Homo sapiens: one gene and its partners. The protein of the gene in region 1 interacts with the protein of each later gene in a biochemical or structural test. Each region holds a gene or a part of one and is shown in the gene's direction. Other genes may lie near its edges.

Region 1 (8,359 bases):
CAATCTCCATTTTAAAAAAAGAACAAGAAATTGGGACCATCATGGCAAATACAAGGTGCCATGTGTTATGTGGCTTTGCATTTTCCCTCAACAAGCTCCAGAGTGGACAAAGAACTCACCAGGCTTCTTTGGAGCCAGAACCAGCCCAGCGTAACTGGAGCAGCACTGAGAACCTTTCCTCACTCCGCTACCATGAACACAAGCTCCAGCCAGGATGGAGAAGCTACTCACTTGTGTATTCTTTTGGGATGCCCCTTGGAGCCCAACAATCTGTGCAGCCCGGAGACAGAAGGACAAAAGGGAGGGATGGGCTGGAGCTGCAGCAGGGAAGCCTGGGGACCAGCAGGTTTTCTCAGGCCCCTTGAGAAAATACCAGCTTAGAAATGCTGGGAAGGCCCTGTATTGCTATCCACTCTACAATGCACTTCCCCCTGCCCCCACCATTTTAATGTCTCTGAAATCAGAATGCATTTTACAATGGATGACATCTTGGAGCTCTACTGGGGTTGGATGGCATTTTTTTCTTTCCTAGTGATATATAAAATAGTGGTGCATCTTCATTCGATTTTGTCTTAGAGTCTATGAAATGTGGTGATTAGTATGACAGTCATCGGCTATAGCAGCTGGGCTGGGAGAGCTGTATCTTCCAGGCCAGCTGCTACCTCATCTCAAGGGTCACTTGAGTTTGTCCTACAGCCAGGGCCCAGGGACAGGCTTTGTCTTTTCCTTCCTTTACTTCCTCCCAAGGAGTTGGTGGCTGCATCTTGAAATCCATCTCCCTTCATCTAGCCACCTATTTTTCAGGATGGGCCATAGGAGGCAGTGGGCCCAGGAGGACCTCAGACCCTAGTGAGCTGCATTTGAACAGCAACAGTCACTTCATCTTGCTGAGCCGTTGGCTTGTGGTCTGATTGCTTGTTTCATTTCATTCTTTTGCTTGGTTTGATTTTTAAAGTTGACATTCTCAAGGGCTTACCTGTGCCTGGCACATGGCCATGAGTCATCTTACTTAATACTCACAATTGTTGTTATCTCTATTTTGTGTATGGGAAAACTGGGCTCAGGAAAGCCAAATAATCTGGCTGAGGCCCCAAAGTTAGTAAATGGTAGAGTTGGGACTTGAACCCAGGTTTTTTAGTCCTCAACTCGAATGTTATACTAGCACCTCTCAGGCTAGAGTACCTTCTCTGTGGCAGTGGATTTGCTGATGTCTGAATTCCTGCTCAGCTTGATGTTTACATGGTGAGAGCCAGCTAGGCTGCCCCTGCTTGTGAGAGGTGAAAGCCCCAAGTAGATAAGGTGCTGAAGACACGATAGAAACCAGGACTGACACCAGGTGTTAAAAGATAGCCCTGTACTGGCCGGGTGCGGTGGCTCACGCCTGTAATCCCAGCACTCTGGGAGGCCGAGGCAGGCAGATAATGAGGTCAGGAGATCGAGACCATCCTGACTAACACGGTGAAACCCCGTCTCTACTAAAAATACAAAAAAATTAGCTGGACATGGTGGCGGGCACCTGTAGTCCTGGCTACTCGGGAGGCTGAGGCAGGAGAATGGCGTGAATCCAGGAGGCGGAGCTTGCAGTGAGCCGAGATAGCCCCACTGCACTCCAGCCCGGGTGACAGAGCAAGACTCCATCTCAATAACAAAAAAACCCCCAAACAAGCAAACAGACAAAAAGATAGCCCTGTACCAAGGTACTTATAGGGGTTACAGGTATTTAGGCATTTGCCATGTTTTCCCTTTTTTTTCCTATGGTGTAAATATACTACGTTTGTATTAGCAACAAAAAGCAACGAGAACAACCAATAATAAATAATAGATTAGAAAATCAAATGTGTGAGGCCTTTCTCAGAACTTGGGTACAGGGACTCTCCCTTACCCTGCAGAAGTAACCAGCACTCCAGAGAATGAATGCTCACCCTCAACCCCACCTGACCTGCAGTGCTCACATTTGCCATCTACATTGTACTCATAATTTTAAATCCTAGACTAGTGCCTGTAATCCCAGCACTTTGGGAGGCCAAGGCAGGAGTATCTCTTGAGGCCAGGAGTGTGAGACCAGCCTGGGCAACATAGTGAGACCCCCATCTCTACAAAACATTTTTAAAAATTAGCCAGGCATGGTGGCACATGCCTGTATTTCCAGCTACTCAGGAGGCTGAGGTGGTAGGATCACTTGAGGCCAGGAGTTGAGGCTGCAGTGAGCTATGATTGTGCCACTGCACTCCAGCCTGGGTGGCAAAGTGGGATTCTGTCTCTATTAAAAAAAAATTAAATCCCAGTTTACATCCTCCCTCCTCCAGGAAGTTCTCCACAAACGCCCCAGCCACACACATGTGCATATGCTCCTGAACATCAACTGTAGTGGACACGGTGGAGTGCCACCCAGATCCCCCTGCAGGACCACAGCCCTCATCCCCATCTACTGGGAGTGTTGGCAACTGACAGTTTTTGGCAATTGCCCACTGCTGAGGAGAGATGCCTCTTTCAAGGCCTCGCTGCTTTCCCTGGGACAGCCAGAAGCTGTGACATCTATGAGAGGGGATTAAAGGCCCTACCCTGTTGCCCTCATTTAGGCAACTGGCAGGGTGCCCTGTGGGGTCACCTGATGCCTTTCTTGTGACTTCTCCCTCTGGCCTGTCCTGCTTCCTCACTTCTTTGCACATCTTGATCCTGAGAGCATTCCCCTGTACATTTCCTGCAGGCTGATTTCCTCTTCAGAGTCTACTTCTAGGGACCTGTATTAGTCTGCTCTGGCTGCTATGACAAAATTCCACAGATTGGGTGGATTGAACAACAGAAATCTGTTTCCTCATAGTTCTGGAGGCTGGGACGTCCCAGATCAAGGTGTCAACAGGGCTGATTTTGCTTAAGGCCTCTCTCCATGGCTAGCAGATGGCCGCCTTCTTGCTGCATTCCCACTTGGTCTCTCCTCTGTGCGCGCATCCCTGATGTCTCTTTTTATGTCCAAAGCTCCTCTTATAAGGACTCCAGTCAGATTGGGTTAGGGCCCACCCTAAGCGTCTCATTTTAACATAATCAACTCTTTAAAGGCCCTGTATCCTAATACAGTCACATTCTGAGGTACTGGGGGTTAGGACTTCAACATATACATTTTGTGGGTTGGGGGAAGAGCATAGTGCAGACTGTAACAGGACCCAACATGCAGCACCTATGGCACCCTTGGGGTGCCTTACTTTTTCATCACTTGTTAATCTGGTAGCCTATGTTAGCAGGTGCCTTTCAAGTGGGAAGGGGTTTTCTTCCCAGTTGCACTAACAGAGCCTTTGATTCAGTTCAGCAAACATCTGTTGAATACGTACTGCCCACAAACCAGAGTCAAGAGTTGGGAAAGAACAAGATAGTATGGTTTTTATTTGTTCATTCCAAGAACAAGAGGAGGAATGAGCAAGACATGTTGTAACTCTTGTGATGTCTACACCCCAGTGAAAAAAAGAGACTCCTAAACAGGTGTCTCCTGCAGCACTGGGGTGTGTTTCAGTGCTGCAGGACCCTGAGGAGGGTGGGTGATGGCTCAGGCAGGAGGATATGGGTGGATTCTAAGACAGGAGGATTCTAGGCAAGACTCACTTTGAAGGATGCATAGGGACTGGAAAAGCAGAGGGAAGGGAAGTGAACAGAAGAGTTTTCCAAATCCCTTTCTTATTAAAGTAGGGATAATAATTAGACAAGATCAAGCATGTTCCAGGTAGTATGGCCATAGACAGGGATAATAATTAAAAGCCTCCGAGGGTTGTTTTGAGGATAAATGAGACAGTATATCCAAAAAACTTAGCAAACTATCAAACCCTTTACAAGTATATGATGCTATCATCAGCAGCAGGGAGTGGGGGGAGAAGAAGAGAGCGATGGTCAGGATGGGGGCAGTAAGTGTGCCTCACACGCCTCAGGCCCCTGACACTGCTTTGCACAGTGCTTTATGCCCAGCAGGTTCAATAAATGCCGATTGAGTAAATGAATGTCAGAAGCAGCCCCAGGCACCTGATCAATACATACATGCAGGCCTCCCGCTGTGGGCTCCAAATGGGAAGAGGGCTCAGTTGGTTTTGCAGAATACAGCATCAATATGACATATGCTTCATTACCTTAGAACAGGAAGATTTGCTGCGTGGTGGCATTCCATGTCACCCCACATGGAATTAGGCACTTTGCTTTTCCCCGAGGCTCCAGAGTGATGGTGGTTGGTAGGACATGATCCATATTCTTCTACTAAAGCTGGAAGAGTGGGTGTGTCAGACAGGGATGAGAGTGTGGAGATTGGGCAGACCCTCTTCCACCATCCTCTCTGACCCATTGCTGGAGGTGTGCCCTGTTCATTGATTGGACATGGCACCACATTCATCCCAAATGGCATCAATTGGTGGTTTTCAATTTGCAGTAGCAAAGTACCTGGAAGTCATGTGCTTTGTATGAAACACCTTGGAATGCTGATAAGTTTAATTCTATTCTGTAAAAGAGGAAGACTTTTGTTAGCTGAAAAGCCAACTATATTATCCATGCATTATGCTTCAGTCACAACCAAAACTCCGGCTGTCAAGTTCATCAACTCCTGATGCCTCCCAAGTCTGCTCCTGAGCCCCTCTGGTCCCTTTTCTCTGTGAATATGCGACACCAGCCTCCCAGAGCCCCACGCAGAAATCCTAGCATTACCCTCAACTCCTTATCTCCCTGCTTGTCCCATACCCACTTTTGCCCCACACCTATCCAAGGACCAAGGACCATGAAATTGACTTGCAGTTTAGCTCCTAATTCTGAACAGGTCTCTCCATCCTCGTTTCCACTATCTTCGTTCAGATGACCACAATTTCTAACCTAAATTACAGCCAAAACATCACTCTCCTCTGAGCTCTCTTCTACACCATACACTTTCTAGAACACCAGTCCAATAGGGTCATGTCTCTGGGCCCAACCTCTCAGGGACTCTCCAGCTGACAAGACACAATCTGGCCTGTAAATGTCCCTGCAGTTTAATTATCCTCAACGTTACTGCCATACCCTACATTTTTGGCCAAACAGAATTGTTTGCTGTTTGATGATTTGATACCATGTCATATTGTCTGTCTGGAACATCCCCCCACCCCTCTCATTTAGCAGGCTAAGTCCTCCTTCTACTTCATCCCAGATGATACCCACTTCAGGAAGTCTTTCCCTTCTGTGGGATGAGATGCCCATTCTGCAGGGCTTTCACTCCCTGCATCCTGCCAAACCTCATCATCTCTTACCTGGATTCCTGCTACAGCCTCCCAGTTGGTGTCCCGCTTCCACTCTGGGCCCCTCCTCTCCGTTCTCCACAGTGCTGTCAGAATCACCTATTCGAAAGGCGAATCTGATCATGTGGTTCCTGCTGCCCTTAGGATCATGTATAAACTCCTAGCATGACTTTTAAGGCCCTCTATGATCTTGCCTATTGCAACCTCCCCAGACTCAACCCTTGCCAGGTCCCTCTGCATCAGCTATCCAGAATCTCTTTGAGGCCCTCCACCTGCTGTCTACCTCTCTACCTCTGTGCTTTGCATATACTGCTTCCAATGTCTAGACCTTCTGCTGACTCCTAGTTCTTTACCTGGCTAATTCCTACACATCCTTCAGTTGTTTGTCTGTTGAACATCACTTCCTCTAGAAAGCCTTCCCTGAATACCTGAACTAGGTTATGTATCTCTCTCCCTGTTCCATTTCCTACTCCCTATCACCCTTAGATGTAATTGCTTGATTAATTGGCTGTTGTTTCTCCTAGAATGTGAGCTACAGAACCATGTATATTTTGTTCCTGCCTATATTTCTAGAACTATATAGAACAATGCTTAATAAATATTTATAGAATCAAGAATGAATGAATACCCATTTCTGTTTCGATGACTAGAAGGTAGCAAGCCTGGTTAACTGAAGTGTGTGGTGCATGGGTCGTGCTTAAGAAGTGTTTGTTGAATGAATAAATAAATGATGGATCAGCTCTGTTCAAGCTCATCTTATTATGCATTTTTAAAAAATTGTGTTTGCTCATTTGTCCTACCAGCTGTAAAAACTTGCTAGCAAAAGAGTGGCAGAAGGCCCAACATTTTTAGAAAATTCTTAGCCGTAAACCTTAAAATCCCGAGTTGGAAAATTCTCATTATTAAATGCCAGGAGTTGGTCTTCTTCCTGGAGACCTCTGCAAGAGGCCCTCTCACTGACACCTTGTGTCCATTTTTCCTGGCCAGAGCCTGGCCACCCAGTGGCTCCACCGCCCTGATGGATCCACTGAATCTGTCCTGGTATGATGATGATCTGGAGAGGCAGAACTGGAGCCGGCCCTTCAACGGGTCAGACGGGAAGGCGGACAGACCCCACTACAACTACTATGCCACACTGCTCACCCTGCTCATCGCTGTCATCGTCTTCGGCAACGTGCTGGTGTGCATGGCTGTGTCCCGCGAGAAGGCGCTGCAGACCACCACCAACTACCTGATCGTCAGCCTCGCAGTGGCCGACCTCCTCGTCGCCACACTGGTCATGCCCTGGGTTGTCTACCTGGAGGTAGGTGGGCCCCCTGCTTGCTCCAGCACTTTCTCCAGCAGGGCCCTGCACTGGACACTGGGGACTCTAGCTCCCCACTGGCTTTTACCAATGAGTTTCCTGGTGCTTCCCCAGGTGGTTTTTCCTTCACTCTGGGCTTACTTTTTCTCCTTACGAAATGGGTAGATTGTTTCCTTAATAATCCCAACTACCATTTGTAAAGTGCTTACTAAGTGCTGGGCCTCACGTAGGGACTTTAAATATAGCATTTTCCTATATAACCCTCACAGCAGCTTAGAGGCTGGCATTATTGCCACCATTTTGCAGTTGATAAACCAGGTGGTCAGAGATGTTAAGTAACTGCTGCAGCATCACACGGCTGGCAAGTCCAAGCTGGAATTCTGGCCTCAGAGTTAGTTCCTTAGGTCATATTGGAAATAGGAGTAACCGGCAAGGATCCCCAAGGAGGGGCATGTTTATGCTCCCAGGCCCCTGAAACCTTCACTCCCATCTCCCCACTTCAGAAATGGGTCTGCTGCTTTATGCTCCCCATATCCCCTCTCCTTCCCACAGCTTATCCTGGGGCCCTGTCCAGGACCTGCAGGTAGAGGCTGCCATGGACTGTGCTGTAGCCCTTTTGTTAGGAAGAATTGTGTAGTCACTCATTTCTTGGCCCAGCTCTGCACCTCAAAATGGGGAGTAGGCAGCACAGTCTAGACACTGTGCCTGGTGCATTGCTGACACAGACCCAGTGAATACTCTTGGTAACCCTGGGAGTCCATGCTACTCTTCTCACTTTACAAAATAGGAAACAGGCCGAGCACGGTGGCTCACGCCTGTAATCCTAGCACTTTGGGAGGCCGAGGCAGGCAGATCACGAGGCCAGGAGTTCAAGACCAGCCTGGCCAACATGGTGAAACCCCATCTCTACTAAAAATGCAACAATTAGCCAGGTGTGGTGGCATATGCCTGTAATCCCAGATACTTGGGAGGCTGAGGCAGGAGAATTGCTTGAATCTGGGAGGCAGAGGTTGCAGTGAGCTGAGATCATACCATTGCACTCCAGCCTGGGCGACAGAGCAAGACTCTGTCTCAAAAAAAAAATAAAATTAAATTAAAACAAAAACAAAATAGGAAATAGAAGCTTTGGAGAAGTTGCCTTTCTTCACCCAGGTCACAGGGAGAAATGCTGATGGAGAAATCCCAAAGCAGATATTATTCTCCAGGAAGACACCTTCAGAGCCAGCGAGCAGATGTGGGAGCATTTAGGGATCATCGGTGGGCACAAGCTGGATCCTGCCCCTTTCTCTGCCCAGCTTTCTAGGATGGCATGTCCAGGACTCAAGCAATCTGGGAGTCTAGGTGCATGGGAAGGCATGGGATCAGGCATTTAGGAAAGTGCCGGTGCTCTGCCCACTGAACCGTTACCTTCCTTCCCTGAGCAGGAGAGGAATTGACCAGTGCCTCTGAGGCCATCCCTGCCTGAGAGGGAAGGGGTTGTTGAAAGAAAATGAGAAAGCTTTGTAGGTTTAAACAGGGGAGAAATCTAGATGAGGACGCTCAGGTGAGGAGGCGAGACTGGTGGAAAGTGGCACACCTCCCTGTCCCTGGGCCCCCAAGGGGCTCGTGCGCTTACTGTTCTCACCACCACCCCGGGCCCAAGGGAGCTCTGATCCATCACCCCTTGGCTTCCTTTACTACAGCCAATGCAGGCTGCAACTTCCAAAATGACCTGACTGGATATTAAGGAAGAACCAAAAGGAAACACAAATACAAAACCACATAAAAATATTCAGTTGACACAGGCCAGGAGTCCAATTCCCCCTGGATCCATGTTTATGAG
Region 2 (8,359 bases), on another chromosome or scaffold:
AGTGAGCCGACATCGTGCCACTGCACTCCAGCCTGGAGACAGAGCGAGACTCCCTCTCAAAGAAAAAAAAAGGGCGGGGAGGATGATCATCTCTGCCTGGAGATAAATACCAATGATTACACAATCAAAGTGATAGTATTTATTGAAACTTACTGTATGCCATGTACTGCAAGAAGTGCTTTGAGTCATTTCACAGTAACCCTGTCAGATAGATGTGATTAATTATCCACTTTTTACAGAGGAGAAACTGAGGCTCAGAGAGGTTATGTCACTGGACTAAAGTTACGCAGCTGGAAAGTGCGAGGCGGTCTGAGTCCAGAGCCCTTCTTTCTACCATGACATTTACTGGGGGCAATATCTGGAAGTACCAGGTTGGTGTCCAGTGGAGCCAGGCAATTCATTGGTAGGCCAGGGCCAGTCCAGGTGGAGAGGTGTGTGAGGGGTGTGTGTGTGTGTGCCTGGTGAGGCAAGGGTGGCTTTGTGGACTGAATATTACTATAGTGCTGAGGGGTAGGGGTAGATAAGTACTGACTAGGAGCTCTCAGAGAAGGATTAGCCTTGGCCTTCTCCTTCCTGGCCAGGGTCCCCCAGAAGTGGGGAAACACCAGACTCCCTGCTCCCATTGGCTTTTAGGGAAGATGGGCTGGCTCTGGACACATCCCGAGGCCACAGTGGGGACTGGGCTAAGGAGGCCCTGTGGGCAGGGAGCTGAGCCTTGGTGGATGGGTGGGGGTGGAGCAGGCTGGCACTGCTTCCTTTGTGGGCTAGAGGCTTGTGGATCAGAATAGTAACAGCTAACATTTATTGAGCATTTATTATGTGCCAGGCCCAGTTTTAAGGGCTTCCATGTACAACTCATACGTTCTTCACAAAGCCCTGTGAGGTGTAGATGAGGTATAGGAGTTATTCTTCCCGTTTTACAGATTGATGGAGCTGTGGCTTAGATAGTTGTTCAAGGTCAAATAGCTAGGCTGTGGGGGAGTCAGGATTCAAACCTAGGCAGTGTGGGTCAGAGCCATGTTCCTGAAGGCCATGCCAGGCAGCCTGTAGTTTCTCAGAGGCCATACTCTGTTTTGTTCAAGTTGAAATAGTCACTCAGTCAGATGCATCCCTCTCCTCAAAGGCCTCCCAGTCTAGCTGGGAGAGATGCAGACATGACACACTAAAAGTAAAGAGTGTGCTATTGCATAGGCTCAGCATGGATTCCTATTTTGGTGCTCAGGGAAGGCTTCAAGAAGACGGGGACCTTTGAGCTGGGCACTGAAGGCCAAGTCGGATTTCGATGGTTGAAGGGGGAAGGGCACCCACTTCCCCAGGTCAGAGGGGAAGGAAATAGGAATGCCTCTGAAGAAGAGTGGGCGGTCTGATGTGCGTGGAACAGATAGTGTGTGTGGCGGAGTGTGAGCTGGGAGGTGACTCAGAAAGTCACCTAGTGTTTGGGTTTTTGATGGAGCTCTGGAATCCACCAGACGTAGGCTATAGTCACAGCAATGCATTGTATTAGCCACGTGGCCTTGGGCACATCACTCAGCTGGCCCAAACCTCAGTTTCCTCATTCGTAAAATGCAGATAAACATGCCTGTCTCACAGGGACCATGTTGTGGTTGTTATATAAAGCACCTAGTGTAATGCTAACACATTGCAGGAACTCAGTAAACATTACTTCTCTCCCGCTTCTGTCTCTCTTAAATGTCAGGCCAAGGTGTTTCGACTTGACGTGAGCCGGGATGCTCTAGGAATCTTTGCAGGATTTTAGTCTGCTGAGGAGCATGACAGAACTGTGTTTTGGGAAGGTCCTTTTGGCAACCGTATGATCCACAGGAGAGGGTGGACGTGATCTTACAGGAGAAACCTTAACTGTGGGGACTTGGAGGGCTGGGGAGGGATCAAGATTGGCACTCATTAAGGTGTCCCTCTGGTAGTGGGTGGTTCGCCAGGTTGGAGAAGGAGGAGCTTGGAGTGGGTAAGGCCACAGGGTCAGGAATTCTGTTTCAGGCCTGGTGAGTTTGAGAAGGGCTGGTCTCCCTTTAGTCATCTGGAAGATTGGGTAGCATCTTTTTTGCACATCTGGCCTGTTTTTCCTTTGAATTATTTCTTTTGAATAAATCCCCATCAGAGCTTCCTCTATAATAGCAGTAAATTGGGACTAAGTGTCCAACAATAGGAAGATGATTGGGAAAGCTTTGGAACATCCACTGGATAAAATAATACGCAGTGGTGAACACCCACAGAAAAACTGCTTGCAGTGGATGGAGCTGTGCAATTGCAAAGCTCTTTTGCATCCTTGATTCATTTTGTGCTTATGACTGCTCTGCGACAGAGGTGGGGCCGGGGCTAGATCCTTTCTGTGTTTGAAGAGAATGACGCTAGACTCCAGTCTCCTTGAAGGCAGAGTTGAGTTCACATTTTATTCATTGTTTCGTCGCAGCATGTTGCTCAGTGGTTTGCAAATACTTGTCCGATGAAAGAATGAGTGAACTAATCAAGAGGGGAAGTGACTTGATCAAGGTCACTCAAGTTGTAAGACATAGTGCCTGCCATATTCTTGCTATTCCCTACTTGCCACATTCTTCTCACTAACCACTCACTATCTTCGAGGGGAATAGGACAGAGAGGTTCCCAGTGAGGACCTGGCACTTGCATAGAACAGGGTTTAAGTCTTCTTTCTGTTTTTACTAGCTGTGAGGCAATTGGCAAGTTAATTAATCTTTCAAAGCCCCAGTTTGCCCAGCTGTAATGTGGATAGTCCAAGTACCTGGTTTTAGGGTTGTCATCAAGATTGAATAAGTTAAGGCATGTAAACATCTTGGCATGGTAACTAGTACATAGTGAAGTATCCATGAACATTAGTGGAGATGATGATGATGTCATGATGTGATGTCATTAATGGTCTGATACAATTAATGTTAAATGGGAAAGAAGACCCATAAGATTATCAGTATTCATATTACAATGGTATAAAATTAGGTATGAACATAGATACAGATTGGAAGAAAACAGGTAGAAAATGGAGTTCCAGCAAGCATATGGGAAGTGAATAAAACAGAAAAACAAATATTTCTTTACTGTTATATTTACTTTTCTTTAGTTTTAATTACAAAAAAAATTTGTGGAAAATCTAATAATTCAGAAGTGTAGGCCAGGCACGGTGGCTCATGCCTATAATCCCAGCACTCTGGGAGGCTGAGGCGGGTAGATCACCTGAGGTCAGGAGTTCAAGACCAGCCTGGCCAACATGGTGAAACCCCATTTCTACTAAAAATACAAAAAGTTAGCCGGGCATGGTGGCTGGCGCCTGTAATCCCAGCTACTCAGGAGGCTGAGGCAAGAGAATCTCTTGCACCCGGAAGGCAGAGGTTGTGGGGCAGTGAGCCGAGATTGCGCCATTGCACTCCAGCCTGGGTGACAGAGCGAGACTCCGTCACAAAAAAAAAAAAGAAAGAAAGAAAGAAAAAAAGTGTATTCTCCCCTTAGATCCCCAAACAAATCCTACTCTCCAGTCGTAGCTAATAACAGCATGTTGTGTATCCTTCCAGGATATTTTCTATACCAACATAAACATACAAACCAGAATGGGATCATACATTGCATTATTGTTTTACAACTTGCATTTTTCATGTAACTACACATTGACATCTTTTTATGTCAGTAGATATAAAATCTATCTCAAAAATTTTTGCAATAGGTATGTTATACTTTCATAATTAAATTTTTAATGGATAAACCCTACTAATTTGGCCAGCCCCCCTGTTGATTGACATTTGAAGTTGTTTCCAATTTTACGGTATTCTAAGTAACGCTAACTGAACTCTAACAGTATTTAGACAATTAGTGAAAATCAAGTGAGAGAAGGAGTCAGAAACCATGAGACCGTGAGAGTTGCCCTCAAAGGTCTGCTGCTTCTCCCTTCTCCTGTTCCCTCCTCTCCTCACTGGAGCCTGGGGGAACTGGTCTTGGAGGAGGCCATCTCTCTGTCACCCTCAAAAGGTGGTGATGTCCCAGGGAAAGACCCTTTCTTTCACCCACCCAGTATGGAGCTCTCCTAGGAAATTTTCAAATTCTCTTAGGATGCTCTAAGCTGCTGCTTGGGCTGTGCAGCTGCCCACACCCAGACTGTCCTTGGACAAGCTTTCTACCTTCTCTGTACCTCAGTTTGTCCATCTGTCTGGTGGTGATCAGAGCCATTGCTGCCACTGAGTGTCTTCTATATGTCAAATACTGTGCTAGAGCAAGCTTCATGTGCATTATCTGTTTTTCTATTTTTTCTTTTTATTTTATTCTTCTTATTTTTTTGTTTGTTTGTTTTTTGGGTTTTTTTGTTTTGTTTTTGAGATGGAGTCTTGCTGTGTTGCCCAGGCTGGAGTGCAGTGGCAGGATCTCAGCTCACTGCAACCTCCGCCTCCCCGGTTCAAGCAATTCTCCTGCCTTGGCCTCCCAAGTAGCTGGGATTACAGGCACGTGCCACCTGCCTGGCTAGTTCTTGTATTTTTAGTAGAGACAGGTTATCACTGTGTTGGCCAGGCTGGTCTCGAACTCCTGACCTCAGGTGATCTGCCTGCCTCAGCCTCCCAAAGTGCTGGGATTACAGGCCCAGTCGTTATTCTTGTTTTTTTAAAGACAGCCTGTCACTCTGTCACCCAGGCTGGAGTGCAGTGGCATAGTCACAGCTCACTGTGACCTCAAACTCCCAGGCTCTAGTGATCCTCCTGCCTCAGCCTCCTGAGTAGCTGGGACTACAGGTGCACCCCACCATGCCCGGCTAATTTGGGGGGGGCACAGGGTAAAGACAGTGTCTCGCTCTGTTGCCCAGACTGCTCTCAAACTCCTGGGCTCAAGCAATCCTCCCTCCTTGGCCTTCCAAAGTGCTGAGATTACAGGCGTGAGCCACCACACCCTGCCTATCTCATTTAATTCTCACTATACACCTTGGAGGTGCAGGGGATAGTCTTCTCAATAGAGGTTAAGTAACCTGCCCAAGGTCACCAAGCCTGTGGCATCAGGATTCCAGCTCTGGCTCATAAGCCCATGTCTGTAACTGCTGTTTCCTGCCCACTCTCAACAGTGGCTAATTGGTGAGGTCCAAGCAAAATGATTATAAAAAGATCCTTTAAGTTGTAAAGTGCCCTGCATGTGGGAGGGATTGATACTGCCGTTATTATTTCTACATCCAGAGCAACAGTAGCTTTGGTTATATGGCTTACAGCAAGTTGGAGGTCGTGGGATGTAGCAGCATTGAGTGGGGAGAGCACTGGACTGTGAGCCAGCAGACTTGAGTCCTAGTCCTGGCTCTCCTTGAAACTGACTAGCCATGTGGCCTTGGCCACTAAGCCGCCTGGGAAATAAGCTCACCTACTCCGTGTGGCCCTTGTGCAGCTCAAATAAGATAAAGCCCAAAAGACAGCCAGCATGTTGCCCAGCTCTCGGAGGATACCCTGCTAACGGGAGGTCTCTCTCTGCCTTCTGCATCGTCATCAGGATGGGCCAGGTGGGACGCATGTCTCCGTTTTAATGCTGTTACTCTGCAGTTCTGTGCTGTCACGTGGTCCCCAGCCCACCACTGCACATCAGCCTGAGGCTCCCTAGTGGCCCGTGAAGCTTTTGGGCAAGAAGCCAAGGCTGATGGGTGGTGGCCTTTTCACATTGTTTGGTCTAAAGTGGTGTCCGTGGGTACTGCAAACCTCTGACGAATTGCCGTCTCCCCACTGCCATGTACAAATCCAAGCACCAGACAGGATGACTGCAGACTCAGCTCCCTTTTTGATCCTTCTTGCCTGGCTGTGAAAGTGGCTTGAGGTCTCAGAGGCAGCTCTCTCAGCCTGTACCCTCCATCCTTTCATTCACGTCCATGTAGACATTATCACTCAGGGAAGTGAGTGTTCCATACTGGGGAAGTCCCCTTGGGAAGGAAGTCACATCATCTCCAGCAAGTGAGAGAAAGAATAAGCCCTAATAGGCACTCTTTCTGTTTTTTTTTTTTTTTCTTGTAATTCTTCTTTTTTCTTTTCTGACTCCGAAAGTAATACATGCTCATAGTAGAAAATTGAAAAATACGGAGAAAAAGGCCCCTATTTCCTTCTCCAAGGGAAGGCTATTGTTAACATTTTAGTCTTTGGACTTAATTGGAGAGTAATATTTCTGGAGCAAATATTTCTAATATTCTGGTATGTGTTTAGTGTTTTACAGGCATGATCTGATTCCATTTTCACAGTAAGCCTGTGAGGTATGTAAGTTTATCATCATGACTTTACAGATGAAGAAACTGAGGCACAAAGAGGTTAAGGGGCTTCCTGACGGTTCCCTTGCCTTCCTTGACTTCTTAGCTTATTCTGCCTCTTCTCAGGCTCCCCTTATCCTAAGTGAGCATCAGGTGGTGGATCAGTCAGATTCTGACAGGAAACAGAATTCCACTCAGATGCTTCACCTGAGGAGATGTTAATAAAGATGTGAGCAGGGTGAGGGGAACCCACATGGGATGGTGAGGCACCCACAAACTAACAGTGACAGAAGGCATTACTAGCTCTCGGCCTGAATGAGCAGGAGGGAGTGGTGTTACCTGAGTTCCGTGACTGGTAGAGGTGGGCAGGGAGCTGTCGCAGAGGGGCTCAGCCACCACCAGGACCACAGAGAGAGAAATTGGGGAAGATACACCCAGGATCTCTCTCCTTCCACCTTCTGAATTCCTGCCAGTGCCTTCTTCTTTATTATTTTTTTTTTAAGACAGAGTCTCTGTCGTCCAGGCTAGAGTGCAGTAGCATGATCTTGGCTCACTGCAACTTCCACCTCCCAGGTCTGCCTCAGCCTCCCTAGTAGCTGGGACTACAGGCGCCTGCCACCACACCCAGTTAATTTTTATATTTTTAGTAGAGACAGGGTTTCACCTTGTTGGCCAGGCTGGTCTCAAACTCCTGACCCCAAGTCATCCACCCACCTTGGCCTCCCAAAATGCTGGGATTGCAGGCGTGAGCCACTGTGCCCGGCCCCTGCCAGTGTCTTCTATTGGCCAAATGGAACCAGAAACCAGGAGGCAAGGGAGCTCAAGGGACAGTCCAATGGGCCAGCCTCCTGCTTCTTCAAGCAGGTCATGGATCTGGGGGTGCACATGGAGACTAACAACCCAAGCGACATGGTTGTAGGGAGATGGGAGAGACATGTCCTCTGACTTCCCAGAAAGAGTTGTCTTAGTAACTGACTATTAAAAACATCATTCAAAACAAGAGACTTTTTTTCTGCCTGGGAGTCTCTTGGTGTTTTGGTGTCTCCTCCCTCCCCTGCCCCCCATCTCCTCTCTCACCTGGTTCAGAATTTCCAAGAACACCTGGGCAACAGTCTTTGGTGTCATCGGTGTGCAGGGTTTAGAAGAGACAACCTTGCTTGCATGATACATGTGGCTGTGTGTGTTCTCATGTTGTTTCACTGCTGTGCCTATGCATACAAAGACATGCTTCTTGTGTACATGTCATAAGCATCTATAACATAGTCTCCTCTGTATCCAGCAGAATATTCACTTTTTATTTATTTATTTATCTAATTTTATTTTTTTGAGATGGAGTCTTGCTCTGTCTCCAGGCTGGAGTTCAGTGGCATGATCTCGGCTCATTTCAACCTCTGCTGCCGAGGTTCAAGCAATTCTCCTGTCTCAGGCTCCCGAGTAGCTGGGACTACAGGAGCCTGCCACCATGCCCGGCTAATTTTTGTATTTTTAGTAGAGATAGGGTTTCACGATATTGGTTAGGCTGGTCTCGAACTCCTGACCTCAGGTGATCCACCCGCCTCACCCTCCCAAAATGCTGGGATTACAGGTGTGAGCCACTGCGCCTGGCTATTTATTTATTTTTGAGACAGAATCTCGTTCTGTCACCCAGGCTGGAGTGCAGTGGTGCGATCTGAGCTCACTACAACCTCTGCCTCCCAGTTTCAAGCAATTCTTCTGCCTCAGCCTCCCAGGTAGCTGGGATTACAGGCACGCACCACCACACTTGGCTAATTTTTGTATTTTTTCTAGGAACAAAGTTTCACCATGTTGGCTGGGTTGGTCTTGAACTCCTGGCCTCAAGTGATTTGCCTGCCTCGGCCTCCCAAAGTGCTGGGATTACAGGCATGAGCCACCGCGCCTGGCCCAGGACATTAACTTTTGTATCTCAAAGTCCTCCCATTCTCTGTAATAGCCTTGATCTCCATGGCCTTCCTCTGATGTGGACAGGGTCTCTCATCCCTGTTTGACACATGAGGAAACATGCTCAGAAAGAGGAAGTGGCTGGGTGTGGTGGCTCACGCCTGTAATCCCAGCACTTTGGGGGGCCAAGGTGGGTGGATCACCTGAGGTCAGGAGTTCAAGACCAGCCTGGCCAACATGGTGAAA
Region 3 (8,403 bases), on another chromosome or scaffold:
AGGGACATTACATAATGACAAAAGGCCTTGTCCAATAGGAAAATATCACAATCCTAAATATATATGCACTTAAGACTGGAGCTCCCAAGTTTATAAGACAATTACTACCAGACCTAAGAAATAAGATAGACAGCAACACAATAATAGTGGGGGATTTCAATACTCCACTCACAGTACTAGACAGGTCATCAAGACAGAAAGTCAACAAAGAAACAATGGATTTAAACTATACCCTGGAACAAATGGGCTTAACAGATGTTTACGTAACATTCTACCAAACAACTGCAGAATATACATTCTATTCATCAGCACGTGGAACTTTCTCCAAGATAGATCATATGATAGGCCACAAAACAAATCTCAATAAATTTAAGAAAATTAAAATTATATCAAGCACTCTCTCAGACCACAGTGGAATAAAACTGAAAATCAACTCCAAAAGGAACCTTCAAAACTATGCAAATACATGGAAATTAAATAACCTGCTCCTGAATGACAACTGGGTCAAAAATGAAATCAAGATGGAAATTTAAAAATTTTTCAAGCTGAACAACAATAGTGACATGACTTATCAAAACCTCTGGGATACAGCAAAGGTGGTGCTAAGAGGAAAGCTCATAGCCCTAAATGCCTACATCAAAAAGTCTGAAAGAGCACAAATAGACAATCTAAGGTCATACCTCAAGAAACTAGAGAAACAAGAACAAACCAAACCCAAACCCAGCAGAAGAAAGGAAATAAGATCGGAGCAGAGCTAAATGGAATTGAAATGGAAAAAAAAAAATACAAAAGACAAATGAAATAGGCCGGGCGCAGTGGCTCACGCCTGTAATCCCAGCACTTTGGGAGGCCGAGGCGGGCAGATCACAAGGTCAGGAGATCGAGACCATCCTGGCTAACACAGTGAAACCCCGTCTCTACTAAAAAAATACAAAAAATTAGCCCGGCGTGGTGGTGGGCACCTGTAGTCCCAGCTACTCAGGAGGCTGAGGCAGGAGAATGGCATGAACCCGGGAGGCAGAGCTTGCAGTGAGCTGAGATTGCGCCACTGCACTCTATCCTGGGTGACAGAGCAAGACTCCATCACAAAAAAAAAAAAAAAGAAACAAAAAGCTGGTTCTCTGAAAAGATAAATAAAATTGATAGACCATTAAAAAGATTAATCAAGAAAAGAAGAGAGAAAATCCAAATAAGCTCAATTAGAAATGAAATGGGAGATACTACAATTGACACCACAGAAATACAAAAGATCATTCAAGGCTACTATGAACACCTTTACACACATAAACTAGAAAACCTAGAGGAGATGGATAAATTCCTGGAAAGATACAACCCACCTAGCTTGAATCAGGAAGAATTAGATACTCTGAACAGACCAATAACAAGCAGCAAGATTGAAACGGTAATAAAAAAAATCACCAACAAAAAAAGTCCAGGATCAGATTCACAGCTGATCCTGTGACATTTAAAGACATTTAAAGAAGAATGTCACTATTCCACAAGACACAGAAAGAGGAAATCCTCCCTAAAGCATTCTATGAAGCCAGTATCACCCTAATACCAAAACCAGGAAAGAACATAACCCAAAAAAAAAAAAAAAAAAAAAACCAAACTACAGACCAATATTCCAGATGAACATAGATGTAAAAATCCTTAACAAAATACTAGCTAATTGAATCCAACAACATATCAAAAAGATAATCCACCATGATCAAGTGGGTTTCATACCAGGGATGCAGGGATGGTTTAACATATGCAAGTCAATAAATGTGATACATCACATAAACAGAATTAAAAACAAATCACATGATCATCTTAACAGACGCAGAAAAAGCACTTGACAAAATCCAGCATCCCTTTATGATTAAAACCCTCAGCAAAACTGGCATACAAGGGACATACCACAATGTAATAAAAGCCATCTATGACAAACCCACAGCCAACACAATACTGAATGGGGAAAAGTTGAAAGCATTCCCTCTGACAACTGGAATAAGACAAGGATGCCCACTCTCACCACTCCTCTTCAACATAGTACTGGAAGTCCCATCCAGAGCAATCAGAGAAGAGAAAGAAAGAAAGGGCATCCAAGTCAGTAAAGAGGCAGTCAAACTGTTGCTGTTTGCTGATGATATGATTGTATATCTAGAAAACCCTAAAGACTTCTCCAAAATGCTCCTAGAACTGATAAAAGAAGTCAGCAAAGTTTCAGGATACAAAACTAATGTACACACATCAGTAGCCCTCCTATACACCAACAGCAACCAAGCTGAGAATCAAACAAAGAACTCAATTCCTTTGACAATAGCGGCAAAAGTATTTTGTTTTATTAGAAAAATAAAATACTTAGGAACATACCTAACAAAGAAGGAGAAAGAACTCTACAAGGAAAACTACAAAACACTGCTGAAAGAAATCACAGACGAGGCAAACAAATGGAAACACATCCCATGCTCATGGATGGGTAGAATCAACATTGTGAAAATGACCATACTGCCAAAAGCAATCTACAAATTCAATGCAATTCCCATCAAAATACCACCATCATTCTTCACAGAACTAGAAAAAATAATCCTAAAATCCATATGGAACCAAAAAAGAGCCTGCATAGCCAATGCAAGATGAAGCGAAAAGAACAAATCTGGAGACATCACATTACCTGATTTCAAACTATACTATAAGGCTACTGTCACCAAAACAGCATGGTACTGGCATAAAAATAGGCATATAGACCAATGGAACAGAATAGAGAACCCAGAAATAAACCCAAATACTTACAGCCGACTGATTTTCAACAAAGCAAACAAAAACATAAAGTGGGGGAAAAGACACCCTATTCAACAAATGGTGCTGGGATAATTGGCAAGCCACACGTAGGAGAATAAAACTGGATCTGCATCTCTCACCTTATACAAAAATAAACTCAAGATGGATCAAGAACTTAAATCTAAGACCTGAAACTATAAAAATTCTAGAAGATAACATCGGAAAACCCCTTGTAGACATTGGCTTAGGCAAGGATTTCATGACCAAGAACCCAAAAGCAAATGCAATGAAAAGAAAGATAAATAGCTGGGACTTGATTAAATGAAAGAGCTTTTGCATGGCAAAGGGAAGAGTTAGCAGAGTAAACAGACAACCCACAGAGTGGGAGAAAATCTTCATAATCTATGCATCTGACAAAGGACTACTATCCAGAATCTACAATGAATTCAAACAAATAATCAAGAAAAAAAAAATCCTAACAAAAACTGGGCTAAAAACATGAAAAGGGCTGGGGGCAGTGGCTCATGCTTGTAATCCCAGCACTTTGGGAGGCTGAGGCAGGCAGATCACCTGAGGTCTGGAGTTCGAGACCAGCCTGACCAACAGGGAGAAACACTGTCTCTACTAAAAATACAAAATTAGCCGGGTGTGGTGGCACATGCCGGTAATACCAGCTGGTCGGAAGGCTGAGGCAGGAGAATCACTTGAACCTGGGAGGCGGAAGTTGCGGTGAGCCAAGATCACGCCATTGCACTCCAGCCTGGGCAACAAGAGCAAAACTCTGTCTCAAGAAAAAACAAAAAAACATGAATAGACAATTCTCAAAAGAAGATACACAAATGGCCAACAAACATATGAAAAAATGCTCAAGATCACTAATGATCAGGGAATTCCAAGTCAAAACTGCTATGCCGTATGTACCACCCTACTTCCGCAAGAATGGCCATAATCAAAAAAATCAAAAAATAATAGCTGTTGGTGTGGATGCGGTGAAAAGGGAACACTTCTACATTACTGGTGGGACTGTAAACTAGTACACCACTATGGAAAACAGTGTGGAGATTCCTTAGAGAACTAAAAGTAGAACTACCATTTGATCCAGTAATCCCACTACTGGGTATCTACCCAGAGGAAAAGAAGTCATTACACGAAAAAGATACTTGCCCATGCATATTTATAGCAGCACAATTCGCAATTGCAAAAATGTGGAGCCAACCCAAATGCCCATGAATCAATGAGTGGATAAAGAAACTGTGATATATATATATATATATATATATGTGGTATATATATATGTGATATATATATAATGATGGAATACTACTCAGCCATAAAAAGGAATGAATAAATGGCATTCGCAGAAACCTGGATGGGACTGGAGACTATTATTCTTATTCTAAATGAAGTAACTCAGGAATGGAAAACCAAACATCGTATGTTCTCACTCACAAGTGAGAGCTAAGCTTTGAGGATGCAAAGGCATAGGAATGACACAATGGACTTTCGGGACTCGGGGAAAGGTTGGGAAGGGGGAGAGGGATAAAAGACTACAAAATTAGGTTCAGTGTATACTGCTCGATGATGGGTACATCAAAATCTCACAAATCATCACTAAAGAACTTACTCATGTAACCAAACACCACCTGTTCCTCAAAAACCTATGGAAATAATATGGAAATAAAAATTTATATATTTGTATAAATTATTTAAACATAATATAATTATATATCTATATATCCTTTATAAATGAGAGTTCATTTCCAGCCTAAAATGAGTACAACATACAAACCCACGAGTCTGGCTCTCCATTGTGCTTTAAAGCATAGTGCACCAGAATATGAAATAGCTGGACAATTCCACAAAGGATTTCGACTAAACATTAAGTCGTCAGAGACTCAATTAACATACTGCTCCATATTTGCTTAATTACCTTAAACCAGTACCCTGGGTGTGGAAAGGGACGATTGAGCGAAGTCTTCCTCAGACTGCGGTTCACCTCACCAGAGCGAAGGAAGCTGCAGCGGGCTCCAGGAGCCCAGTGCGTCCCCACCGCAGGCCCCACCCACCCACGCCCCGCTTGCCGCAGGCCCCGCCCACCCAAGCCCGCCCTTGCCGCAGGCTCCTCCCTAGTGTCGTCGCTACAGAGGAGCAGAGGATGACGTGAGGACAGAGTCGCGAACATCTCCTCGGAGCGCAGCTGGGCCAGCGGTTCCCACAGCCCTGGAGCCCAACGTGCGCAGAAGCGCCTCTTGGAGCTCCTCTCCCACAGATCTCTCGTCCTCTTCCTGGGCTAGGCCGCCCCAGGCGCGGCCCCTGCGACTCCTGGCACGGCCCCGTGCTCGGCTGCCGCCCTGGCGCGCGCCACACTGTCGTCCCCGGACGGGCGCGGACCGGCTCGGCCGGGGCGCCGGCGGCTGGGGAGGGGTCGCTGGCCCCGGGGCCGCGCATGCGCCGCCACCAACTTGGGGCTGTCAGTGGAGGGCGAGTGCTGGTTCTCAGGGGAGGCGACGCCCTTCGGGGCCAACGGGCCTCGAGCCGAGGCAGCAGTGGGAACGACTCATCCTTTTTCCAGCCCTGGGGCGTGGCTGGGGTCGGGGTCGGGGTCGGGGCCGGTGGGGGCCCCGCCCCCGTCTCCTGGCCTGCCCCCTTCATGGGCCGCGATGATGGCGGCCCTGTACCCGAGCACGGACCTCTCGGGCGCCTCCTCCTCCTCCCTGCCTTCCTCTCCATCCTCTTCCTCGCCGAACGAGGTGATGGCGCTGAAGGATGTGCGGGAGGTGAAGGAGGAGAATACGCTGAATGAGAAGCTTTTCTTGCTGGCGTGCGACAAGGGTGAGAGTTAGGCCCCTTTCTCCTCTGGACGCCCCTGTCCTCCAGACCTTTAGTCCTCTCCCCCGCCTCAACTTATATCGGGGCATTCCCTCTGTCTCAGGCGCCGAGTGTCTTCCCGCCTCGCCTGCTGCCTCAGGCGGTCTTCTCCTCACCGCCTCTGCCCTGTGAGTGTGGAGCTGGCGGGAGAGTGGAGCTGGGGCTGCGCCCTCGGAGCGCTGCACCGTCGGGGGTGGCTCTGGCCTTGGGGTCCGGGGTTTAGGTAGCGCCTTGGGAGCCCCGACCCCAGCGTTTTAGCGCCGCCCTTGCTACTGACCGCATGAATGACCTGGTCTTCTCTCTGGCTCGCAGTTCATTCCTTCCGGGAGTCGAGAGGCTAGTTTCCGACACTCCAGTCGGAAAATTCCGTCACCTTACCTTAGGATGCCTCGTATGGAGGGTTCTCATCACCTGGTTTTTGTTTTTCTTAAAAACAAAACCAGACCCTCTATTATTTAGCTTCACCTGACCAGTGCTTTAGCCAGTGACTGTTGACTGGCATTAATAACGGAATATCCTAGGTGGAGATACATGAAGTAAGGACGGGACGGAAGAAATTCTGCCTTAGTTGCCAAAACTTTCTCTGGATTTACGGAACGCCTTTGATTGTTAGTGCTTTTTATTGGAGAGAAAGATTTATTGCTCCCAGATCTTTCTTTGGGAGATAAAGATAGTGAAAAATAATTACAGGAATTACAAGGCAAAAATATGTGGAATATATTTAGCGCGTTATCCTTTTTTTAGTCTAGAAGTTAATCATTTTTATGGCCATATTAAGGCCATGTCACGCAATCATCCTTTGTAGTGATGTATATAACAAAAGGGATAGGAAATTGATTGCCCTAAGACTGCTTTTGTTTCCTACATGGAAACACTAAAATTTTTCTTTTTCCAAATTTATATGGCTGTACACTTAGGAAAACTCTGTTAGAAACATGCAAACTTCTGGAACAAACCCAAAGGGCAGTTTACACTATGAAAAGACTAACTACACAGGATTTTTGTTTGTTTGTTTGTATGTGTGAATGTGTAATTAATAAATGACAGCCTTCCTAACCTCTCCTCCTGCTTTTGAAATAGGATTTTATTTACATGATTTTTTGAAAACAATTGACATATAAACAAAGTCCACCTATGTCTGTGGTTGAGCCATTTTTATGTTCTTATGTAATAGTATTAAATAATATTATGAAAGCAATATTAATAATATTGTTAAAGTACACCATGGACACAACTTTGAGCAGTCTTTGAGATGTAAAGAAACAGAATATACATCTACAACGTCACAAAAATAGGGTCTGTGGATTATGTAAAATTATTTAGTATTGCTGGAGTGGGTTGCCTGAGTTCTCTTCCCTCAAAAGTTCTGAGAGAGGAAGGGGAGAAGATTGTGTTGTACTAAAATGAGTAAGTGCTGGCTCCATGTATTCCAGCTCACTGTGCAATGGTTATTTTAAAGCAAACAGAAAGTATGTCAAGAAAGGAAATTTGATATTCCTGTCAAACTGAGGACAGAAAAATATCAGTGGAATATGGTTGAGCAAGTATTTGTGCATTGTGTATATTTAGGATTATTGCATGACATATCTCAAACAAAAGAGAGTTTTAATTTATGATAGTTGTATAGCCTATTTAGTAGTACCAGGTGAAATACCTTGATATTCTTTGTCAGTTTTTTATTTTATAACATAATTGAGATGAGAGACTTGGCTTTGGGGGGGTAGGGTGGAAATTAAATATGCATATTTTCCCCATATATAAATTAGAAATTTTTAAAACAAGTGAGCTAAAATGGGAATTTTCTGTTTCAGGTATGTCTAAACAACTTCTTGAGTTAGATTTGGAAAAATAGCATAATTCTTACGCATACTTATGGGGTACATTTACATTTAAAAAGTAACTTTGAGTTATAGGAATATTCTTTTGATTACGTGTTTGTATTCGCTAATATTGTTAGACTTTTTAAAATGTTACCTAAACCAGTCTAAAAGTGAACAATTTCCTGAAGTAGCTATGACTTCCACCATTACACTGGAGCCTTCCTCAGACCAAATGTTAAACATTCACTAAAGCAGCTATTGGGGTCGAGTGTTCATGCTTTTCATAGAGGATTTCATTTAAACCCCACAACCCCATGAGCCAGATCTGTTGTTGTCCTCAATTTGTAGATGAGGAAAATGAGGCTTAGCAAAATTTTAAAATTACTTTGCCCAAGGTTACATTGGTTAGATAATAGTAGAACTGGCATTTATCTTGAGCCTGCACTCCTAACCACTACGTTATATAGATCTGGTTGTAGGTGAATGAGTGAACATCATTTGTGTCAGAAAAGACACATCCATATTTGGACTTACTAGTTGAAATTACATTTTCTTTGTATGGATGCTTTATAAACCTTGATTTCTGTGTATTACATTTGTTCAATGAAGGGTAAAAAGCAAGCATGGTACTTCAGTAGCACCAGAGTAAATCAACTCTAGAGTATCTATGGTGTTCTAGAGTGTCTCATTCTTTTCATGTAGCATTCTTGTTGTACATATGCAAAATGTTCATAACATATTCTTCTTAGGAAAAATTGAGGAATTCCTAAAGCAAAAATTGTGGAGATGAGATGGATATGTGTATGTTAGTGGATGGGTGGCCCTTTGAAAGATGTGTACAGATTAAAGAGTACAATAAATGTAGGAAAGAGAAAAGAAAAAGATTTATAGTTTGTGATAGCTGGCTTTTATGTAAGTAAGTTCGGTAGATTTAGGCAACTGCTGATCT
Region 4 (5,569 bases), on another chromosome or scaffold:
AAAAACTTTGTAGTGTTTTAGGTTGTTCCAGGGTTTCCTTTCAGTAAGTAAAAGAAGTGTTTGTCTTAATACATTTTGATGACTGATGATTTTTAACGACATTTTGTCAGGAAAAAAACTCGCCCCTCCAGTTTTTTTAATTACCTATTTCAGATTCAACTGCTTATCAGTATAAATATGAGTCTTTATGAATAACTGAATTTCAAAAATATGGCAAGATTTCTGTTATAAAAAAATAATAAACCATAATATTGTAAGTATCTTAAACAAGCAAGATGATTACATACTAATAATATCCAAATGAAAATGAATTTATTCTAACAATCTAAATCTAAGTAAAGTTGAATTCCAGTATTTTCAATCAACGCAATATTGTAATCAATTCAAAAGAAGTACAAAAAAACTAGCAGTCTCCTCTTTTCACCAGTAATCTTTATATATTTCTTTAAAATTAAATCACTCAAAAATCATTATTAATTTTATCAGCAGATATAGATATATAGTTTTGCCTATAGGAAAAACATTCTTATTTCTTGTTTTTCTTTCTATTGTTTGCAAGGTAATTTAGCTTATAACAATTCACTGAACTATTACAAGGAAAGTGTTCGCAACTTACATAAAATTGATACTAGAAACTTAAAGCTTAAATTTTACATTGCTTGTGTCTATTTAAGCCACTACGGGAAGTTTCTTCACCACATAAAATTAGCATTTATTTCAAATCAATAGAAAAATGCTAAGTTCATTTTATTTCAAAAATTACTCTGCGAACCTCAGAAATTGCATGTGATTTATCATTGGCCCCAAACTGAATAATGTTATGGCACTCAGTTTCTCATTACCAAACATCAAAAATAAGGAATAACAGCAATAACAATGCCAGCCTCTGTTCTATTCCTATACACCTGTTAACATTTATGTACTGCTCTTTACAGCCCTCTGAAGTAGCTCCTGTTTTTATCCCCATTTCACATATGATGAAACTGAGACCAGCACTAACTGGCTAAGGTAATACAGCTCATGATGGAGCTGTGATGTGTCCATCAGAGCCATTCCCTTCACCACTGCATTGTAACTGCCTTTCAGAACATAAAAAGAGCAAGTTATAAAACATGCATATACAGGGGTTACAATTGCCACTTCTGAAGTCCTATACCTTGAGAGAGAATGAGTTTGGTATGCTTCATAAGAGTCCCTTCTTCTAAAGCAAGAGAAGTGTGCAAAATATAAAATGTGCTGTATTTGATTCTTTAGACTAAATTACATTAAAGTTAGTAGATTTTAAAAACATATTTATTATGTGATCTCAGAACTCAATTTGAAATACTAGATTTTAATTTTCAGAAAAGCCAGGAGCACTAAGCCCCTGTTCACTCCTAAACCTGGTTTTTGGGAATTTAGGAATGGGCCAGATAGATTTGGAGAAACACAAGCCTAAATGAATGCATTTACTGTTTCAAGAACACCTTTATCTCAAGTATATTAGGACTCAGAGCAAATCCTGGGGCTACTGAAATACTCATTTTTTTCTAAATCATACCTACAGTAGTAGAGAAATTGTAGGCCTATTGTTAATATTTGGGATATTTTCTATTAATTTCTTTTTGCCTCTCTTGTGCGTTGTTGTTTTATTTTGTTTTTTCCCAAAGTAAGGACACTATACATAACCATTTTACATACTTTACCAGAATTTAATTTCAAATTCTCTCTGTTCCGTCAAGCAACACCAATAACAGTACAAGCAACAAAACCTTTTTTCCCCCAGTAGCTTATTTATATCAGGGGTTAAGGTGCTGACATTTTATAGGGGGACATGATGGTAATAGAGGAATGTATTTGGAGCAAGTAAGACCCTCCTTTTCAGTGCCCTAGAAAGGATGATTCTAACAACCCCCAGATGTTGCTGACAGATGTGTTTATGAGTATGAACAAAGTGCTGGATATTATTAGTACCCGATGTTACTAATATCACTAGAATTGAATGCTATTCTAAATACGTAGTGACATTATGTAGCATTAATGAAGATGAGGAGTAGGGATAAAATAAGAAAAGTCAAACAACAGCAGGATAGCAAGCAAAGAAATACTGTTTCTTTGAGGTTTGTAAGTGCGTACTTCAGGGTGTTCGTTTCTATTCATATTTCTATCCACAGAAATTTCTAAATGCTACAGAGAACTTTGAAATTACCTTCATTTACATAAATAATGTTTCTCATTTTTCGTACTCTCTTAATCTTAAAAAATCTGTTTTTCTTAAATTTTGTGTCTGAGTTAGGTGAAGGAGTGTGTTGAAAATTCAGTTTAATAGACTAGCAGGTAAGTTTAAAACACTTTGTTTATCACAATTGTATTTTGGAAGTCCCATTTATAAGAAAGTATGCTATAAAGATGTACCTCATTATTCGTAATAAAGGTTTTCCTTAAAATTTCTGTGCAAATAAATCTATATTAACTTCAGTAAGGAAATTGGCTATATTTTTTAAAATGGGGTGAATTATTTTATAAAATCATGAGTAATTTTTCAAAGTGCTAAACATCCTCAAAATGTATCTGTTTCATGAATTGAATATTTGTATATCAAATTTTCTTAAATTAGTTACTCTATTTACTGGATGGCAATTAAACTAATGCAAAAACATACTCACTTTCTTGCCTTGACGTAGACAGCAACTTGAAATACTTTAGTGATGAAACAAATTGATGAAAAGTCAAGGATAGTAGACTCACCATGCTGTTCTCAAAGAAGCAAAGTCAATTTTCTAGCAAAGGTGGAGGAAACATAAGTAACAATAGCATAAGAATATATTCTTCTAACATTCAATAATCCTTAATAACTCTGGGATTTAGCTGAGTAAATGACTATCCAGTCTCACAGCTCTTTATTGAAGAGAGGCCACCAAGTTTTGAAATCTGTCCATTCTTAGTCCTCATGCATTGTATTTTTAGCTGTCTTCTATGGTGTATACAGCTGCCTTCCATGCTCAGTGTCCTTAAAACTCAACCTAGTAAGAACCATCCATTGTGGCCCTGTAAATATGCTTACAATATATTTTTCTTTCTCTGTATTATCTGAAATTCTGACTTAAAACTAACCATAGAATTTAGAAATTTAATATTACTGGCATTCCTCTTAACTTCAAAACCATTATTCTGATTTTACAATGTCTGAAAAGACATTTTATTTATACAGTGTTATCACATGCCTTTTTTAATTTGAATTTTAGAATCATGTTAAATAAGTTCACTGTAGATAACTGGGGAAAGTAAAGCCCAGGGAATTTATGGAAATTATCTAAATTTACCCATGTGTTTGGTGGTCAAGTTGGGGCTTAAACAAAAACCTCCTCATCTAGATATTTGGATGAGGCATCACATTATAAATGCCTTGACCACTGACTTTTTATTTGGGGAACATTTTGTCTTCTTTGCCCTTGTAGAAAATATAGTTGTCCAAACATTCAAGTTAAAATTCAGAATTAATACCATATTATCTTTTGTTTTTCTACAAAGTTGTGTTAAGAGAATTTTTAAAAAGCTGGTTTCTTACTGTTTTCAGAAAATACACTGTTCATTTTCACTGGAAGTGTAGATTTTATGATAACCTGTATGCATACTGGTAATAATAAAATGTATTAAATTATATCAAAGCTTCTCAACTGAAAAACATTAGAGATGGACAATGTACAGTTGAACTAAGATTGGGACAATGGGACCAAGCCTGGATACAGTCACACCGTTACTAGGCTGACAGTGAAGACGTCTCTGCAAGTCAAATTCACCAGTAGCAAAACCGTTAATTTCCTCTAGAGCTGCACTGTTCAGTAACGTAGCTCCTATACTCATACGGCTATTAATCACTTGTAAGTGTGACAAGTCTGAATTAAGATGTGCTGTAAGTGTGAAACACACACCAGATTTCTAGGACAGTATGAAAATAATGTAAACTAGCTCATAAATATTTTATGTTGGCTACATATTGAACTGATAGTATTTATGAAGTATTGATTTAAAATATACTAAGTAAATGAGTTTGATGTTTCTTTTTCCTTTTACAATGTGGCTACTAGAAAACTGAAAAATACGTATGTGGCTTGCATTTGTGCCTTGCAATACATTTCTATTGGACAGTGCTGCTCAGGAACATTTGTATTTGTTTCAGTCAGCTCATGTATCTCCATCATCTGAATTGCAAAGGTAGAAAATTCTATCTTTAATTACTCAAAAAAGTTTTGTGTAGCTCTATTAAAGTTTGCAGTCTCTCCTTGATTCCTAATCTCCTAATGGACTCACTGGTAATAATTTGCTGTTTTTCCCTGTTTTTCCTTTGCCTTTGCAAATGTATTAATATATAAATATACATGCAGCTATATAGGTTATGGTTTTGTTATCATTTTTATCAAGAATTTCATCACACTATACCTATAACTTAGCAAATGTTTTTATCTAACAGTGTATCACGGAAACCTTTTCTAAAATAATTAAATATAGTGGAGCCATTTGAATCTATTTAAATAAATTCCTTGACTAGTTATTTTACCTAGTGAAATATTATCGCATGCTATTTTTAAAACCATGATAGAAGAGCTACTTATTGGAGAAAACACAAGGTTTTGTTTGTTTCTTTGTTTGTCTTTTGAGACAGAGTCTCTCTCTGTTGCCCAGGCTGGAGTCTAGTGGCACAATCTCAGCTCACTGCAACCTCTGTCTCCTGGGTTCAAGCAATTCTCCTGCCTTAGCCTCCTGAGTAGCTGGGATTACAGGAGCTTGCCACACATCTGGCTAATTTTTGTATTTTTAGTAGAGAGGGGATTTCACCATGTTAGCCAGGCTGGTCTTGAACTCCTGACCTCGTGATCTGCCCGCCTCAGCCTCCCAAAGTGCTGGGATTACAGGTCTGAGCCACCGCACCCAGCCCACAAGGTTTTTAAGTGATGAGAAATGCCTGATAGACAACAAGGTGTGTCTGAAAGGCAAATAAGCTCATTTGTCTCTTTCGTTTACAATCTTGCAGGGCTGGGTTTCTGGTACCAGCATCGCTTCTCAGCTTCATTCTCTCACACACTATACTTCAGCCATTCTAAACTTCTTTCAGCTCCTTGCGAGTTAGTATTGTTCTTTTCTCTAACATTTGCAAACATTGTTTTTCCATGCTTGAGTAAGAATTGTACCAAAATTTTATTACTTTAAATAATTTTAATAAAGGATTTTAATTAATTCTAATCGACTTATTTTATGATTTCCTTTAGATCTAATCAAATTTTTTTACCAAATTTCTTTTTTTTTTTTTTTTTTTTTTTTTTTTAAGAAAACCTTTTCCTGAGGCTGCACATAAAGAGCCACGTTACCTCTCTGGAAACGAAGTGTGATCCACATTGACATGCTTTCAGGGCACCAATGTACTTTGAGAGGTTTAATCACACCCAGCAGACAACTCACTGTGCTGTCTTGGCATTCAGAATGCAAAATGCCCTGTACTTTGGGGGAAGGCAGGAAACTGATATTTTTTTTCATAGCTGCTGTGGAGTGACTGCAAGTCAGGCCCTTCATCTCTTTAGACCTCAGTTGCTGA

What was found.
Region 2: the proteins of DRD2 (region 1) and EPB41L1 form a complex in vitro, tested with the Homo sapiens proteins (one study listed by BioGRID).
Region 3: the proteins of DRD2 (region 1) and TRPC1 form a complex in vitro, tested with the Homo sapiens proteins (one study listed by BioGRID).
Region 4: the proteins of DRD2 (region 1) and TRPC4 form a complex in vitro, tested with the Homo sapiens proteins (one study listed by BioGRID).

What each region holds. Positions count from the first base shown.
Region 1 is NC_000011.10:113,422,545-113,430,903, reverse strand, and holds part of DRD2 (D(2) dopamine receptor), read left to right. Parts: intron 1-6,221; 5' UTR 6,222-6,252; coding exon 6,253-6,537; coding exon of another isoform or gene 6,538-6,541; intron 6,542-8,359. UniProt on the Homo sapiens protein: Dopamine receptor whose activity is mediated by G proteins which inhibit adenylyl cyclase. Positively regulates postnatal regression of retinal hyaloid vessels via suppression of VEGFR2/KDR activity, downstream of OPN5.
Region 2 is NC_000020.11:36,157,165-36,165,523, forward strand, and holds part of EPB41L1 (band 4.1-like protein 1), read left to right. Parts: intron 1-8,359. UniProt on the Homo sapiens protein: May function to confer stability and plasticity to neuronal membrane via multiple interactions, including the spectrin-actin-based cytoskeleton, integral membrane channels and membrane-associated guanylate kinases.
Region 3 is NC_000003.12:142,719,134-142,727,536, forward strand, and holds the start of TRPC1 (short transient receptor potential channel 1), read left to right. Parts: upstream 1-4,900; 5' UTR 4,901-5,426; coding exon 5,427-5,598; intron 5,599-8,403. UniProt on the Homo sapiens protein: Forms a receptor-activated non-selective calcium permeant cation channel. Forms a heteromeric ion channel with TRPC4 or TRPC5 that has reduced calcium permeability compared to the homomeric TRPC4 or TRPC5 channel.
Region 4 is NC_000013.11:37,630,760-37,636,328, reverse strand, and holds the end of TRPC4 (short transient receptor potential channel 4), read left to right. Parts: 3' UTR 1-4,266; downstream 4,267-5,569. UniProt on the Homo sapiens protein: Forms a receptor-activated non-selective calcium permeant cation channel. Acts as a cell-cell contact-dependent endothelial calcium entry channel.